4 linked regions of the Homo sapiens genome follow. The protein of the gene in region 2 purifies or fractionates together with the protein of the main gene of each other region. This does not show direct contact. Each region holds a gene or a part of one and is shown on either strand. Other genes may lie near its edges.

What was found.
Region 1: the proteins of GAPVD1 (region 2) and CREB3L2 purify together in Homo sapiens (co-immunoprecipitation; one large-scale study listed by IntAct). This does not show direct contact.
Region 3: the proteins of GAPVD1 (region 2) and PPP6R3 fractionate together in Homo sapiens (co-fractionation; one large-scale study listed by BioGRID). This does not show direct contact.
Region 4: the proteins of GAPVD1 (region 2) and ZDHHC5 purify together in Homo sapiens (co-immunoprecipitation; one large-scale study listed by IntAct). This does not show direct contact.

What each region holds. Positions count from the first base shown.
Region 1 is NC_000007.14:137,994,434-137,999,086, forward strand, and holds part of CREB3L2 (cyclic AMP-responsive element-binding protein 3-like protein 2), read right to left. Parts: intron 1-4,653. UniProt on the Homo sapiens protein: Transcription factor involved in unfolded protein response (UPR).
Region 2 is NC_000009.12:125,364,255-125,369,002, reverse strand, and holds the end of GAPVD1 (GTPase-activating protein and VPS9 domain-containing protein 1), read right to left. Parts: 3' UTR 1,796-4,748; downstream 1-1,795. UniProt on the Homo sapiens protein: Acts both as a GTPase-activating protein (GAP) and a guanine nucleotide exchange factor (GEF), and participates in various processes such as endocytosis, insulin receptor internalization or LC2A4/GLUT4 trafficking.
Region 3 is NC_000011.10:68,467,252-68,471,904, reverse strand, and holds part of PPP6R3 (serine/threonine-protein phosphatase 6 regulatory subunit 3), read right to left. Parts: intron 1-4,653.
Region 4 is NC_000011.10:57,699,114-57,702,835, forward strand, and holds the end of ZDHHC5 (palmitoyltransferase ZDHHC5), read left to right. Parts: coding exon 1-305; intron 306-752; coding exon 753-918; 3' UTR 919-2,069; downstream 2,070-3,722. UniProt on the Homo sapiens protein: Palmitoyltransferase that catalyzes the addition of palmitate onto various protein substrates such as CTNND2, CD36, GSDMD, NLRP3, NOD1, NOD2, STAT3 and S1PR1 thus plays a role in various biological processes including cell adhesion, inflammation, fatty acid uptake, bacterial sensing or cardiac functions.

The DNA.
Region 1 (4,653 bases), on a different chromosome or scaffold from region 2:
CTCAGCTAGCTACCTCCAGCCCTGGTATTCTACTCTGACGCCAAGAGTCCAGATAATACAGTTAATTCTACATCTCCTAGTTAGTGAGTCAAGACATAGCCATAATCTCCTCCTGGCTCCCACCCCTCCCTAGCCTTTCCCTGCACTTTCAAGAGGCTATTTCTACATCTATAGTCTTCTTTCACTGGGCATTGGTAGCACAGCTAAATAATATTCTTAGAACTTTGCTGGGCCGGACGTGATAGCTCATGCCTGTAATCCTAGCACTGTGGGAGGCCGAGGCAGAGGATCCCTTGAGCCCAGGGGTTCAAGACCAGCCTAGGCAACATAAGGAGACCCTGTCTCTATTTAAAAACAAAAAACAAAAGAACTCTGCGAGTGGCACAGTACTTGGGTTTACTGTTTTGCGCCCAGGGCAAATTACTGTGAATTTTAAATTTTCTAGTTGCTAGCCCATGTTCATGAGAAAAGAAACATACCTTTTGACTAAGGAAAGAATTGTTAACTCAGACTATTTTACTAATGATCCCAATGGTCATGCTGGTTGAGTCTCCATCCCCATATGATTAATCTAAGCTGATAATATAAATCCCATTCTCCTTTCCAGCCATTGGCTTAAGAATGGTCATATGACCGAATCCTTACCAATAAAGCTTTAAGAAAAATCAGCTAGTGGGCTAGTAAGAAAAGTTTCTTCCATTCTAAAAAAGGGACACAAGAAAGAGACAACTTCTCTTCTTCCTCTGGATGTTGTCATTTTGAATGTAACCCCTGTAACTCCTATGTCCATCACACATCCAACCTGAGGATGAAAGCTGCACATGGGCAGAACCAAGGTCCATTGAGGAACTGCTGAATCAGCCAACAAGGAGCTCTATTTCTTTTTTTTTCTTTTCTTTCTTTTTTTTTTTTTTTTTTTGAGACAGAATCTCACTCTGTCACCAAGGCTGGAGTGCAGTGGCATGATCTTGGCTCACTGCAACCTCCACCCCCCAGGTTCAAGGGATTCTCCTGCCTCAGCCTCCCGAGTAGCTGGGATTACAGGCGCCCGCCACCACGCCCAGCTAATTTTTGTATTTTTAGTAGAGACAGGGTTTCACCATCTCGGCCAGGCTGCTCTTGAACTCCTGACCTTGTGATCCACCTGCCTTGGCCCCCCAAAGTGCTGGGATTACAGGCGTCAGCCACCGCGCCCGGCCAGGGGCTCTATTTCACAACCTCTTGCAACATGAGATAATTTACTTACTGTATGAGCCGATCTGAATCCATTTTCAGTTACTTCTAGCTGCAAGCACTGTAATTAATTCAATTATTAATCTAGATGCTATATCTTATAACTCCTGCAAAAGCAATGTCACATCAGAGACCCCTGTTTCCCATGAACACTGTAACTCAGGGATCATTCGAGAAGGAGGGCAAATATAAAACTCTGTACTGCCCTCTCATCTTTCAGGACTGTGCCTATGTCTACCACCTCCCAACCAATGTTACTATCATGAGAACAATTTCAGAGACAGTAAAATAATCCGTCAAAGATTTTTTGCTAAGCCAAGGGAAATCCTCTAGATCATAGACAAATTAGCAACACATAAACAAGGCTGCCTTATGAATAAGAGCCACATTATGAAATAATGGAGGGCAGTGAGGGTTCCTCTCCCATTCCCCAAATATTCGCCCACTACTACCTGGCTATCGCCCTAGGTTCTCCAAGTGGAGATTCACCCTTTTGACCTGAAGTAATTATTGTTAAATATAAATGCCCATTTAGGGTTAACATGTTAAATCTTACTAACACTAAAATTTCTAGTGAAAGCTTATCAAATCTTTCCTGACAGCAAAATTTGAAGGGATGAAATTGGAAAGAGAACATTACAGTGAACACTTGATGTCTAAGAAAGGAGGGGAACACAAAAGGGGCGAGAATGTTGAAAGGTGCCACAAGGGTCTGGAAAAATTATACTTACTTCCCAATTCTGTCTCCCGTTAGAACTCACTACATTTATTCAGCTTGTGGAGGTCATGTGACCATAAGTAATAACATTCTCAGCCAATGAGGACCCGGGTGCCCCTTCAGAACCTGGCCTGGGGCCAACCCTAGGAGTTAACTCCAAAGTGGAACATCAAACCAAAAGCTTCAATATCGCATTGAAATCATATCACTCTCCGGGCCAGGCGGGAGGAACAGGAAACCACACAGTCTGTGAGATCAGCCAACTCCTTTTCAGCACTCAGTAAGACATGGAAGCCAGATGGCCTTTCCATCTGGACACCAGGCAGGTCGAATATTCCCCCAACTCCCTACCTACCACTGTCTGGGACCAGTGGTTTCACTTGAAGAACCAACCAGATATAAAACTGTATTAGCATAACCACCAAATGATTTTACAAATAACTTGGCTTTATAGGAATTCTGCATTTTAAACAAGCAGAACTTCTGTTGTTACTTTCACAAAGACTTAGTTTTTATGATACACTTTTTTAAAAGGATATAATCATGGCGAAAATTGCAAAAATTGTTTTATTTTCCAGATGGCTAAACTGAGATAGAAGAAAGGAGAACATTATCAAGATCTTGATGTTTATCATGGGCAAACCACCTGCCAACCTCTCCCCCTAAAGCCTCTTTCCATGGGGCCTTCCCACTTCCCCTGTTCTTCATCCAACGCCTCCACTGACCTTGAGTGGTGTTGAGTTTCTATATAGTACTGAAGCTCCCTTTTTCCCCCAAGAACACTTGGTTGAAAATTACCTCTAGTCCAGTTTTACATGGTGCCTACAAGTTGTATTTCTTCCATTTTCTAGACATAGTGACGAGGTAAAAATCTGAATAGTACCAACAGGTATAGTGTGTAGACATGCTTCCCTTCATCTCTTGACTTCCACTTCCCCAAGCTGCTTTCCCAAAAATTATCCACTTCTTGAGCATCCTTCCAGATACAGTTTATACATATATAAAATACATTTTAAAATTTATAGATTATTTTGCTCTTTAAATTGCAAAAGGGGGCTGAGCACAGTGGCTCACACCTGTAATCCCAGCACTTTGGGAGGCCAAGGCAAGAGGGTCCCTTAAACCCAGGAGTTGGAGACCAGCCTGGGCAACATACTGAGATCCCGTTTCTACCAAAAAAAAAGAAGAAAAAAATTAGCCAGGCATGGTGGCACACACTGATACTCCCAGCTACTCTGGAGGCTGAGGTGGGAGGATCACTTGAGCCTGGAAGGTTAAGCCTGCAGTGAGCCATGATTGAGCAACTGCACTCTAGTCTGGGTGTCAGAACAAGACCCATCTCAAAAATAAAATAAAATAAAATAAAATAAAATAGAAATTACAAAAGCACAGACAATTCCCAGAAAGTAATTTTCAGAGAATTTTATAGGAATACAATACAAATGGCAGAAATGTCCAACATACAGGCAGGTCTGGGGAAAGAGGCAAGGTTTCTTCTCACGGTGGTACCGAACCCCAAGAGATATTCTCCTGATTTCTAGATTTGCCATCTTTTCTGAACCAATTTTAGCCTGTATTCCATCTTGAAGCAACAGCTTTCCTAAAATCAGTACTCACTGAATTAAAATAACATTTCATCATCTGTATGGAAACAATTTTTTAAGCTTCAAGAGGAAGCCCAGAGCTTTAGCAATTCAGGATCTAATGATCAGTCCATCTTTGCCCTATCCATATGCTTCATTATTTTGTAGACTCTGAACCTGTCTGCCTTTGTCCTTGTAGACCAAGATGTCTTCATAACTAACCAAATGAAAAAAAACATTGCTCCTAACGGTTAACAGAAGGCTCCTGAGAAACATCATAATCTCAGCCTTGGGTAACTTGAACATTCTAAATTGTTTAAATCAAGTATGTGACAGGTTTGCTAAAACAGAGCATTAGCAATCATGCATGTAGTAACTAAATCCCTAGTAAGAGCAACAAAAGTGATCTCACTAGGAAGGTTTGGTGGCTGCCACTGTCAGCCTCATTTAAACATTAGCTGCTTTCAGGCTCAGCAGTTCCTATATTCCAATCACTCTCTCCCAACCTCTTATTCAGTTCCTTCTCTTTAAGTCAGGATTCTTCACTCAGACAGCCTGATAGGCAAGTACTTGCAGGCAGGCAAACATGGGTTTGAATCCTGGTTCTATCACTAAATAGCTGTGGGAACTGAGCCAAGTGGCTTAAACTCACGAAGCCTCATTTTTCTTATATGTAAAATAAAAGTAATAAAAATGGCTCATTTCACTGGGTCATTACAAGGGTTAAATGGCATAATATTTGTAAAGCACTAGACACAATGTCTTTCAGCAGGACCAGCTACGTAATTTGTGAAACCCAGTGCAAAATGAAAATGTAAGGTCCCCAGTTCAAAAAGAATTAAGATTTTCAAGATGGTGACAGCACAGCATCAAACCAAGTGTGGACCCCGTGGCACTGCATGGGTGGCAGGCCATGTGGTCAGCCCTGCCTTTCGGATGATAAACACTCAATAGATGGTAGCTGTCATCATCTCTTACCACCCTCACAACTCGTATTTGAACCTCACCCTCCCCTCAGGCTCTCTTCAACTTGGAAAGTTTTATGAAATCATTCCAAAAACAGGCACTGGTGTCTCAGAAGCACCCAGAGTTTATAAGACAAATAACTCACCAAAATGA
Region 2 (4,748 bases):
TCTTTGGTCATATATATTTTTTCTTTTTTTAGAGACAAGATCTCGCCCTGTAACCCAGACTGGAATGCAGTGGCCCAATCTGCAGCCTGGAACTCCTGGGCTCAAGCCATCCTCCCACCTCAGCCTCCCAAGTAGCTGGGACTACAGGGATGTGCCACCATGCCTGGCTTATTTAAATTTTTTTTTTTTTTTTTTTTGTACAGACCAGGTCTCATTGTTTCCCAGGCTGGCCTCAAATTCCTGAGCTCAAGTGATCCTCCCGCCTTCGTTTCCCAAAGTGCTGGGATTACAGGCATGAGCTAAAACACTTTCTCTGGGCATGGGTCTTTTTTTTTTTTTTTTTTTTTTTTAAATCTATGGGCTATATTTTACTACCCTAAGTGGATGGAAAGGATTCTTCTGGAATGAAATAAGTGAAGCAAAAGCTCTTCGCTGAATACTTCAATCCTTAGGTGGAGGACACATTTATGGCCAAGAGGAGCTTCAGCCCTGGTTTCTCTCTACAGGATCACCACCCATTTTGCAGCAGTATGGCAGGCAGGCTCGTGAAGCTAGTGTCAGTAGCTCAGCATCCTGTGAGGAAAAGCTACGGAGCCCTGTACTTGCGGAAAGGGTTGAGTGGGTACAAGCGTAACAGCAGTCCAAGCGACACAGGTAAATTCCAAGTTGGCAAGAAAAGCTGAATGCTATTTTTGGTTCTAGGCGTCATACCACTCGTTTTAATATTGAAGAGTGGGCCGGGTGCGGTGGCTTACACCTGTAATCTCAGCACTTTGGGAGGCCGAGGCAGGTGGATCACCTGAGGTCAGGGGTTCGAGACCAGCCTGACCAATATGGCGAAACCCCGTCTCTACTAAAAATACAAAATCAGCTGGGCGTGGTGGCGCATGCCTGTATTCCAGCTACTCAGGAGGCTGAGGCAGAACTGCTTGAACCTGGGAAGCGAAGGTTGCAGTGAGCCAAAATCGAGCCATTGCACTCCAGCCTGGGTAACAAGAGCAAAACTCTGCCTCAAAAAAAAAAAAAAAAATACTGAACAGAGCAAATGGAAATGGGCCGTAAGCAAGTTTTTAACTATTTCCTTCTAAATGAAGTGCAATCAATATAAGAAAAGCGCCTTCTCACCAGCAAGGGAAGCCTGAAGAATGAGTTAGTACTCCTTGTCAAAAGTAACTTCCCTTGGCTGGAAAGATTAATAAAGGCCTAAATGAATATTGTGATTAGATGGCAACACTTTTGCTTTCAAAATGAAAAATGATAAATAGCTACCAAATATAGGCATTAGGCAGAAACTGTTAAATCCATAGATGAAGGTCTGGGTGCAGTGGCTCACGCCTGTAATCCCAGCACTTTGGGAGGTTGAGGCGGGCAGATCGCTTGAGCTCAGGAGACTGGGCAACATGGCAAAACCCTGCCTCTACAAACAATACAAATATTAGTCAGGTGTGGTAGCGTATGCCTGTTGTCCCAGCTACTGGGAAGGCTGAGGCTGGAGGATCTTTGAGAACAGGAGGCAGAGTTTGCAGTGACCCTAGATCCTGCCTCTGCACTCCAGCCTGGGCGACAGAGCCAGGCCCTGTCTCAAAAAAAAAAAAAAAAAAACCCTTAGATGTTCACCATTGTGTTAGTTACTGCCAGGTCATTCTAGTTCCTTCTTGTGCCATACTTAGCAAACACCCTTATTGTTCAGATAAAAAAGATGTGTGTGAATTCACGGAGAACATCAGAACATTCGGAAGTCAAATACGTTTTCAGAAATGCTTCTGAATATAAAATAGATGACAGAAACATAAAACCCTGTGAATCAAACTGCTCTCCCCTTTTAATCAGTTTTATAGAATATTTTACAGTACTAATCACATTAGGAGACAGGAGGGGTTTCCTGTACATATACAAGATTGTGCAAGCTCATTAATTGAGACTTATAGAAAGGTTTTATCTGTTTCAAAAGAGGCAGTACAGCTTTTTAATCCAGGTGAAGCACAAGAAGAATCCAGTAGACAGGAGAGTATTAATTTGACAGAGGTGAATTCCCCTAGTGCATGGCCGCTACCCACACTGTCTGCCATTATCCAAGTGGAGACGTCATCTCTCTTGAATTGAACCCTTGCTGAGCTCAGGCCTGTGGGATGCGGCAGCTCCAGGGTCACTCCATAGCTCAACCACAACTTAACACGGAAGCAAACTATATTTTCATTTATCCAAGTGTTCTCAAGAGTAATAAAGCTATTCCTTGTCCTACTACTTTCTAACCTACATTCTAAAATATATTAAGTAATTTTTAACCTGGCAAAGTTCTCAAGCATTTTGGCATTTAAAGTAATCGCAAATACCTCATCACTGTTAATCCACTTACTAAAAATCCTTTGGGCTTCAAGATAGTTTCAGATTTACTTCCCTTAAAATTAAAGCAATTGCGTACAAAATAAACTCACTAGACTTAAATATTTAAAAAGAGAGACAACAGCCTTTTCTTTAAAGAAACAAAGCAGGAAGAGATGGGAGAGAAAAATCTAGGAAGCACCAATTGAGGAAGTGAACCCCACTACACTTCTATCACTTTTATGCAATCCAGTAATAATTCTGAGTGTATTCCTACTTTCCCTCTTCACACCCAATCACATAGGAGAAAAACAATTTTAAAACACCTAGTTGACCTTACTCGGTCCAAAGTGGAAATTTCCATGGCAAACAATAGGAAAAAGAGTGCCCGGGTTCAGCACACCAGTCAGCTACAGATTCTTACGGCAAGAACACAGCCCCCGTATTGGGGCTGAGATTGTTCTCTTGCTCACGCACCTCAGGGACACATTTGTAAAGCCCACTTTAAACAAAGGCTTCCAGGACATAGGAATAGAAAAACCATGCAGCACATTTGCAATCCCTTAGAAAACCTGAGCCTCCTACTACAGCGATTTAACTATCTGTATCAGAAGGCCTTCATAAGCAGGTTTTTATAAAGAAAAAGCAGAAGAAAGCAATTACTGTGGCTGAGATTTTACCTAAAATGGAGAAAGAAAGCAAAATGTTTGACACGTTTAAATATATATACATATAATTTTGTGGTTGGGCACGGTGGCTCACGCCTATAATCCCAGCACTTTGGGAAGCCGAGGTAGGCGGATCACTTGAGGCCAGGAGTTCGAGACCAGCCTGGCCAACATGGCGAAACCCTGTCTCTACAAAAAATACAAAAATTAGCTGGGTGTGGTGGCATACACTTGTAATCTGAGCAACCAGGGAGGCTGAGCCATGAGAATCACTAGAGACTGGGAGATGGTGGTTACAGTGAGCCGAGATCACAGCACTGCACTCCAGACTGGGTGACAGAGCAAGACTATGTCTCAAAAAAAATTAAAATATAATTTTGTAAGTAAAGACAATCTTCAACTTGTATTTCTATTACTTCTAAAAGCAGAATATTAATACAAAATGCAAACCTGATTTTTCTTTTCCTCAGAGAAGTTAATCCTACAAGATTTCAGGGGACCTGAGCCAACTCTCTCTCCATTTAACATCCACTTTATAAATTCTATGTAGTAACTAGTGGCTGCTGAATGTTTCCTGGGCTGATTTTGTACTTTTACACTAATCTTTCATGTAAAGAAAGTACTGGAAGGCAGTGGAGGAAGAAACATTTGGGGAACAACTATTCCTCTTTTCTATTAAAAAAAAAAAAAAAAATCAAATCACTCCCCATCTCACATACCTGTCAAGAAATCAAACAGTGATGGTTAATGCCAAAGTAGTCCTTGCTCCTGACAGATTTTCAGAGGAAACCTTAGCTGCCCCTGCAACAGCTGTGCTGTGCTCCTCCGCCAGCTATGGAGTCATGAGCACCCGAACCCATTTCACAGGTGTCACAGATGTCAAATCTCTGGGGGGTCTACCCTCAGCCCCGGCTCCAACACAGCACAGCCCTATCTCCTGCCTCCAGTGTAGCCCTTCACCCCAATCCCACCACCTTCTCTTCCACAGAAAAGAGCCCCGATGCAATGTCCACATCTTCATATTTATTTCCACAGTGTTAACATGGAATAGACTTAGCAACCATTGCAGAGAAAAAAAAAATCTCTCATTGGTTTATGAGTTAAATCCTGTAACAATGAATTTCAACCATTCGAAGTCTTCTGCTGCTTAACATTTACTGAATCAAAGGCTGAAGTAAATGGACTCTCATCTAGGTCTCAGAAATCACACAGCTGGCCTCGTGATGTATTTACGATGGGATTTAACTTCTAATACAAGGCAAGTTTGACAGTTACAGCCAATGAAGTGCACGACTCTGTACATGGATTTCTTGACCTAACATTCAAAAGGACATTTCATAGTACTAGTTTAATTCTGATCTCTCTCTAGAAGGCAGAAACCACATCCCACACTCCTATGCAATTTGTTATTTTGGTATTGTAAAGTAAATGAATAAGAAGGGGTGGAGGCATAAAGAAAATCTAGTTTCTGGCTGGGCAGGGTGGTTCACGCTTGTAATCCCGCACTTTGGGAGGCCAAGGCGGGTGGATCACGAGGTCAGGAGATTGAGGATCATCCTGGCCAACATGGTGAAACCCCGTTTCTACTAAAAATACAAAAATTAGCCGGGCTTGGTGACATGCGCCTGTAGTCCTAGCTACTCGCGAGGCTGAGGCAGGGGAATCACTTGAACTGGGAGGTGGAGGTTGCAGTGAGCCAAGATCGCACCATTGCACTCCAGCCTGGGCAACAGGGTGAGACTCTGTCTCAAAAAAATA
Region 3 (4,653 bases), on a different chromosome or scaffold from region 2:
ACATGCTCCCACTATCCCATCTCCCCTAGTCTGCTCTCCCTCCTCCTACCAGGGAGGAGCCCATGGATGCCAACTCTCCACATGGGCACCCACCCACTTCCTGCTGCCTTCCCAAGAATGTGGCTCCAGCAAGGGTCACCTCTTCTGATTCATCATGTCATTCATCCTCTGGAGAATTACTTCACCAACACTGCAAAAATGGTGTGGTTTCTCCCACCTCAACACCTCAGGATCCCAAATATCCCTTCATCACTGTGGCAAATCCCATGACGGAGCTCTACTTGCCTTTCTCTTCTCTCAATCCTTGTGAATGCTCCCTTCCAGGCTTTTCCTGCACCACCATGTGGGAACAGCTCTCAAGATCGTCGATGAATTCCACGCTGCCAGAGCCATGAGACGAGTCTTGGTCCTTATCTCAGGTGACCTCACGGCAGCAGCACTGGCAGAGGTCCCCGCTCCATCCTCCGTGACAACACTTTCCTAAGGCCTCAAAGCTGCTCCTTCCACCTTCTAGGCTGCCGTAGAGCCTCATTCCTTCAGTGCCTCACTCAACCTCGGGACTGTTAAATGCCACCTAAATATTGAAGACTCCTATTTCTTTTTCTTTTTTTTTTTTTTTTTTGAGACAGAATCTCGCTCTGTCACCCAGGCTGGAGTGCAGGGCGCGATCTCAGCTCACTGCAAACTCCACCTCCCGGGTTCATGCCACTCTCCTGCCTCAGCTTCCAGAGTAGCTGGAACTACAGGCACCCACCACTAAGCCGGCTAATTTTTTTGTATTTTTTTTAGTAGAGACGGGGTTTCACCATGTTAGCCAGGATGGTCTCATCTCCTGACCTTGTGATCCGCCCGTCTCAGCCTCCCAAAGTGCTGGGATTACAGGAGTGAGCCACCGCGCCCGGCCCAAAGACTCCTATTTCTATCTGCAGCCTAGATCTCTCCCTTGAGCAGTGAACACCCCAATCCAGCATATCTCCAATCTGCTCTCCAAAAGCTTCAGAAACTGAACATGCACAAAACCCAACTCCTGATCTTACTTCCACACGCTGTTCTTCCCAAGTCTTCCCTTTCCTTATACATGGCAACGCCCACCAGCTACAAAAATCCCTGGTATCATCCTTTACTCCTCTCTCACACCCACTCCAATCTGCCAGCAAATCCTGTCTGCTCTTCCTTTTCAAGAAGGATCCAGCAGCCAACCTCTTCTCACTCCCACCCCTGCTCCCCTTCAGTCCCAGCTGCCATTACTGCTCTCCTGGATCACTGCCAGAGCGTCCAACCTCCCTCCAGCAGCACAGGACAGTGGGACCTTTAGAAACCACATCATGTGACACCTCTGCTCAAAACACCAAATGACTTACCCATCTCACTCAGAGAAAAAGACAAAATCTTAACAATGGCCAGTGTGACCTACGCCCTCCCCCCATCTCCCCCATCCATCTGGCCTACCCTCCTCCCACTCTCCCTCAGGCTCCTCACTCCAGCCACACTGGCCTCCGCTGCCCCTCCAACACAGCAGACATGCCTCCTTCTTAGCACCTTGTCCTGCTGACCCTCCGCCTATAATGCTGCCCCTACCCCACTGCCACCCACAGCCTTGTGGCTGGGTCCCTCCACTCCTTCTGTTGACTGCTGTATTTCAATCTGCAGACAAGCACTCCCCCACACCCCACCTCTCCTGGTTTACTTTTCTCCCTGTTTGTATTACCATATGGCTACTGTATCTTTCATTTATCTGTTAACTGTCTTTCCCCTACCAAAATGTAAGCTCCATGAAAACAAGGACTTTTCATCTGCTTTGCTTACTGTTAACATGCCCAGCAGTAGAACAGTGTTTAAGACATGGTAAGTACTCAAACATCTGAATAAAAGGATCACAGAAACAATGTTGAGTGGGGGCAAAAAAAGAACAAAGTGACTCCATTTACATTGTCTAAAGGAATGCAAAAATGAAGTCACATTATATAAGGATACATTTATACTTTGCAACACCATAAAGTAAAGCAGAAAAATGATACATACAAGGTATTTGCCTTGGGGAGGTCAGAAAGAGGGAAGTGGTGAGACGAGGACACAGGGAGCCAAAGGTATGGCAACCTTCTATTTCCTAAGCTGGTTAGTGGGTACACAAGTGTCAGTTCTAATGTTTAATATCTGGGCACATGCTGATATATACTCTTTGAATTCATAGTCCAATTACAAGTTAAAATAAAAAAACAGATTAGAGGCCAGGCATGGTAGTTCACACCTGTTATCTCAGCACTTTGGGAAAACAAGGTGGGAGGACTGCTTGAGCCCAGGAGTTCAAGACCAGCCTGGGCAACATCGGAAGATCTTGTCTCTACAAGAAAAAAAAAAAAAAAATTACCTGGGTGTAGTAGCATGTGCCTACAGTCCCAGCTACTCGGGAGGCTGAGGTGAGAGAATCGTTTCAGCCAGGGAGGTCAGTCAAGGCTGCAGTGAGCTATACTGCACTCCAGCCTGGGACTCTATCTCAAAAAAATAAACAAAAACCACTGCACTCTAGCCTGGGATTACACCACTGCACTCCAGATTACACCACTGCACTCTAGCCTGGGACTCTATCTCAAAAAGATAAACAAAGACAAAACAGATTAGAGCAGGCATTGACAAACTACAACCCACAGGCCAAATCCAACTCTCTGTCTGCTTTTATAAGTAAAGTCCTATTGGAAGACAGCCACCTTCATTTGTTTACAGATTGGCTATGGCTGCTTTCACACTACAAAAGCAGAGATGAGTCCTTGCAGAGACCATTTAGCCTCCAATGCCTAAAATATTTACTAACTGGTCCTTTACAGAAAAAATCTGCAAACCCTCAATAGAGCTGTCTGGTTATAATGCAGAATTTGTAAAGAAATTAAGTGCAAAATCAAAAAGATCCAATCATCTGTTAACATATATTGATCCTTCAAGGCGTATGTGATTATCCACACTATGTTGAAAAAATGATTCTATATAAAATGTGAGACTCCACAGCAAAGTTACCCTACAACGTCCTGTGTGCCAGAAAAGAATAAACTTAAAAGATGTTTTAGAAAGCAAACTGCAAACCTCAAATTTATGATCTCTACTCCACCAGCAGAAATTATGTTATATATGTTCTAATGTTATATTCATATTCACAGTTATATACATTAAAACATATATAACATACTCCAAATTTGGAGGAAGAAAATTTGCATATCAACACTAACTCTGTAACCTCCCCAACACTGAAACCACCATCACCCTGACTTCCGCAGAGCAGCTGGTTAGACCTCGAGGCCTCTCTATGATCCTATAATACTCCATTTCTCTCCTTGAGATCATTCACTGCACCTTGGAGGTGTTTCTGTACTTTTGTTACAAAATACCATACCTATGATGGGAGGATCTCATAGCTGCTGAGTCCATCTAAGGGTGTAATAACAAGAAGTCCACAGTGAAAAGGGACAGTCATTCACAGAGTGTTGTTTACTCAGAAGGGGCAGGGTCTCACTTGCAGACAAAAGAGACAGATGAGACCTGTCCATTGTCCAAAGGCAATACAAACCCTGTGTATCTCTATGTCAACAAAAAAGAACTCCTCAACTACTATACAGTGACAAAAAACTGACACATACTACTACCAAAAATAAAATTCCAGACGTTAACCACTTATTCTGAATTCTAAGTAAAATCCAGCTGTGATGTCACTCTTGAAACAAATAGCACTTAAAACTGTGGTCTGGAACATCACAATCCTATGGAATCACCGGGGCTGAGATTTCTCTGCTCCTTCTGGTTCCATTCTTCTGCATGGCCTCCATTTTTCTGTAAGAATAAATGCGCTGGGCGTGGTGGCTCATGCCTGTAATTTCAACACTTTGGGAGGCCAAGACGGGCGGATCACTAGAGGTCAGGAGTTTGAGACCAGCCTGGCCAACATGGTGAAACTCCATCTCTACTAAAAATAAAAAATTAGCTGGGTGTGATGGCACACGCCTGTAGTCCCAGCTACTCGGGAGGCTGAGGCAGGAGAATCGCTTCAACCTGTAAGGCGGAGGTTGCAGTGAGCCGAGATCGCGCCACTACACTCCAGCCTGGGCGACAGACTGAGAGTCCATCTCAAAAAAATAAATAAATAGAAAATAAATGACGTCTAAGTGTTGTTGCAGCCCAAAACCATGATTCTCACGAATGGAAGCCTCAGTCAATTGTCAAGACTAGTCAGTGTTCCTCCCGCTACGCCCATCTGAGGACCAAAGCCCAACCAATCTGACCAGCCAACCATGGAGCAGGCAGTGTGAACTGCCCTGATTAGGGTCTCAGTGTGACATGTGTTCTCAGGCAAGCTCTTTTTTCTCAAAGTGTGTCTCTGCCACCAGAATTTTTGTTCAGATTTACATGTAGGTATAGGAAACCCAAGGCTCCAACTAACAGTCCCACACAGCTTTCTCCAAGTCTGTCTGACTCAACATCAGTCTGCAGCCGTTTTAGTCCTGCTCTCTAATGTTCCTAAAAACAATCTTTCATTCATCTTTTCTTGGGCCATCAGATTTCACGGTAGTCAATCTCTGGGGAATTCAAATCACTTCAAGTCACTATGTATTTCCACTGTAAGAAATTCTGGAACTAATAATCCCGTGGTTTTCCCCAGAGTTACTGTGA
Region 4 (3,722 bases), on a different chromosome or scaffold from region 2:
CGTGAGGAAGAACCAGGCTTGGGGGACTCAGGCATTCAGTCAACACCAGGCTCGGGCCATGCCCCTCGTACTAGTTCCTCCTCAGATGATTCAAAGAGATCACCTTTGGGCAAGACTCCACTGGGACGCCCAGCTGTCCCCCGTTTTGGCAAGCCAGATGGGCTAAGGGGCCGGGGAGTAGGGTCCCCTGAACCAGGCCCAACAGCCCCATACCTGGGCCGATCGATGTCTTACAGCAGCCAAAAAGCCCAACCTGGTGTCTCTGAGACAGAAGAAGTGGCCTTGCAGCCATTACTGACACCCAAGTAAGTATTAGTACTATCCTGACCCTTAGCCAATTTCAAATTAGCATACTGCTCTGCAAAAGCTATCAGGGCTTCTGTTGTACATCCTAATGTAGGTGGACCCAGGGGTATCCTGGTAGCTCTTTATTTTCACTTTGACTCTACCTGCCTTCATGGGCAATTCCTGTTAAGAGACTGAAGATTAATACTTTTTCCATAATGCTATCTTCCTAAAAGTATTTGCTTGGGAGTAAGTACATGTGATAGCTGTTACTAGAGAGTAGTAGTACATAGGAGAGATTGGGAATCAGGCTTATTTTAAGCAGGGCAATAAAGGGGAATGTTTGGGTAAGAAAGTATGGATATAGAAAAGAACATCATTTTTTTCTCTGAACCTTTGAAACTGTCTCCCTTTCCAATGTTTTCTGTCCCATTTCCTGACACCTACGTCTTGTCTCTTCTTTCCAGAGATGAAGTACAGCTGAAGACCACCTACAGCAAATCCAACGGGCAGCCCAAGAGCTTAGGCTCAGCCTCCCCTGGCCCAGGCCAGCCACCTCTCAGTAGCCCCACGAGGGGAGGAGTCAAGAAGGTGTCAGGGGTTGGTGGTACCACCTATGAGATTTCGGTGTGAGCCTTCGGCACCTCCCCTCCCCAACGCCTCTGCGCCTACACCAAAGGGCCCCAGGTGGCCACCTTCCTTCCCTCAAGGGGCTCCCCTCCCGTGCATGGACATTTTTTAAACCACCGATTCCAAGAGGATGAGGAGTGTTTTCTAAAATGCAGTAGGCTTGGGGAGTCGGAGAGTTGGGGCCCTGAGACTGGGGTAGCAACCCCCCCTTTTATCTTTTAAGACCTTCCCTTCCTTGATCCCTGGACCAGACTCAGTGGACATTTGTGCAATTGCTCGCCCTGGAGGGAACCAGATCATTTTTAAACCAGAAATAATTTTTTTTATTATTGTTACGGATTCTATTTTTTTCCTCTTCTGCGTTACCAGGTGTGTGTGTACATATAATATATATATATATATATTATAAATATCAAAGAAATTATATATCTATCCTGGGATGGGAAAATGAGGGAGGGATACATATACGGAGGGGGATCTTACTCTTCCCATTCCTCAGACCAGCAGGAAAAGAGGGGAGACGTCAGTCTTTTTCCTGTGGTTCCCTCTCATTTGTCCCAGTTACTAACTACGGAAATAGCATCCTCTGCTGGTGCTAAGTGTGATTAGGAAGAAGCCTGGGGAGAGGTGAGTCTGGAATTTTGGTCACAAGAGGGAAGGACTTGGAGAGGAGAATTAGTTTTCTAGGCTCATTGGCATTTAGTTTCCCTAGGAAAGGGGTCAAAACTTCAAGACACTGGTGGTGGTGGGAGATCAGGAAAATAACTTGGCCTAGCTCAAACAATATTGGATAATCCCCTCCTTGGGGGAGAGGGATTAGAGTGTGCTCCTACTGGCCCCTTGGAGCCTCCCCTAGCTTACACAGTTAACTTGATTTTAAAATCCAAGGCCAGGAGAGAAGAATCCAAAAAGCAATATTTTTCATCACATGCCAAAAACGGGGGATAGAGAGAAGGAGTGGCAGGCCTAGGCCCCTCCGATTGTCCCTTGGGGGTTACCCCTCAGCCCACCTCACTATGGTGCTGGGTAGAGGGGATACCTGGGTTCTAACCTCTAAATAGGGGAGATCCCAGCCTCCACAAAGAGGCCCTTTTATTTTTTATTCTGATTAGCCATTTTAAACCAACGAGGAATAAAAAGAAATCCTGATCTAACCAGCGCCCCCTGACTTGTGTTATTTTGTCTGGTTGAGACAGGGTGAACGATCTCTGGTGGGAAGTTATCAGTGACAACCTCATAAACTTCTCTGGTCCCAGCCCATCTTTAGGCAAGACTATAATGAAATTAGCCACTTAACAACTAAAAAAATAAAAAAGAGACCCAGTGCGGTGGCTTATACCTGTAATCCCAGCACTGAGGGAGGCTGAGGCAAGAGGATCACTTGAGCCCAGGAGTTCCAGACCAACCTGGGCAACATAGAGACTCCATTTCTAAAAACAACAGGTCCTGTTTTTATTTGGGTGATTTAATTCAAAAATTCCTGAAAAAAGGTCTCTTGAAATCACCAAAACTGCTTGTTATTTGAAAGCTTAGAGAACTCTTAAAAGTTGTTTCTTTCAAGAGACAGGGCCTCATTCTGGTTGCCCAGGCTGGAGGGCAGTGGCACAATCAGATCACTATATCCTCAAATTCCTGGGCTCAAGGGATCTTCCCACCTCAGCCTTCTGTGAAGCTAGGACTTACAGTTGCATGCCACCATGCTTAGCTAATTTTTTTTTTTTTGGTAGAGATAGACTCTCAACCAATTTTGCCCAGACTGATCTCGAACTTCTGGCCTTGAGCAATCCTGCCTTGGCCTCCCAAAGCATTGGGATTACAGGCATGAGCCACCATGCCCAGCTACAGTTGTTTTTTAATACAGGATTTAGTCTCTGGAAAGTAAAGCTAATTTTGGAAACAGCCAAAGGTGACATAGTAACAGGTATGAAAGCCTGTTGAAGGCAGGTTAACTAGATATCGGTGTCAGTTCAATTAGATATATTGCATTTTATTGGACAAAAGCTGTGCTCTAATTTTAAATAGGTATCCTTAGACACTAAATCTCAAGCAGTTGACCAGAGCCCTTTAATTACTCAAAATTTAAGAATATAAGCTCTTAGCCGGGCGTGGTGGCTCACGCCTGTAGTCCCAGCACTTTGGGAGGCCGAAGCGGGCTGATCACAATGTCAGGAGATCGAGACCATCCTGGCTAACACAGTGAAACCCCATCTCTACTAAAAATAACAAAAAACTAGCCTGGCGTGGTGCGGGCGCCTGTAGTCCCAGCTACTTGGGAGGCTGAGGCAGGAGAACGGCGTGAACCTGGGAGGCGGAGCTTGCAGTGAGCCGAGATCACGCCACTGCACTCCAGCCTGGGTGACAGAGCAAGACTCCGTCTCAGGAAAAAAAAAAAAAAAAAAAAAAAAAAAAATATATATATATATATATACTCTTATTTGGGTGCAGTAGCTCACACCTGTAATCCCAGCACCTTGGGAGGCTAAGGCAGGTGGATCACCTGAGGTCAGGAGTTCAAGACCAGCTTGGCCAAAATGGTGAAACCCCGTCTGTACTAAAAATGCAAAAATTAGCTGGGCGTTGGTTATGGGTGCCTGTAATCCTGGCTATTTGGGAAGCTGAGGTGGGAGAATCACCTGAACCCAGGAGGTGCAGGTTGCAGTGAGCTGAGATTGCACTACTACACTCCAACATGGGCGACAGAGCAAGACTCTTTCTCCAAAATTTAAAAAAAAAAAAAAAAAAAAAATATATATATATATATACAAAAATTAGCCAGGTGTGGTGACGCACACTTGTAGTCCCAGCTA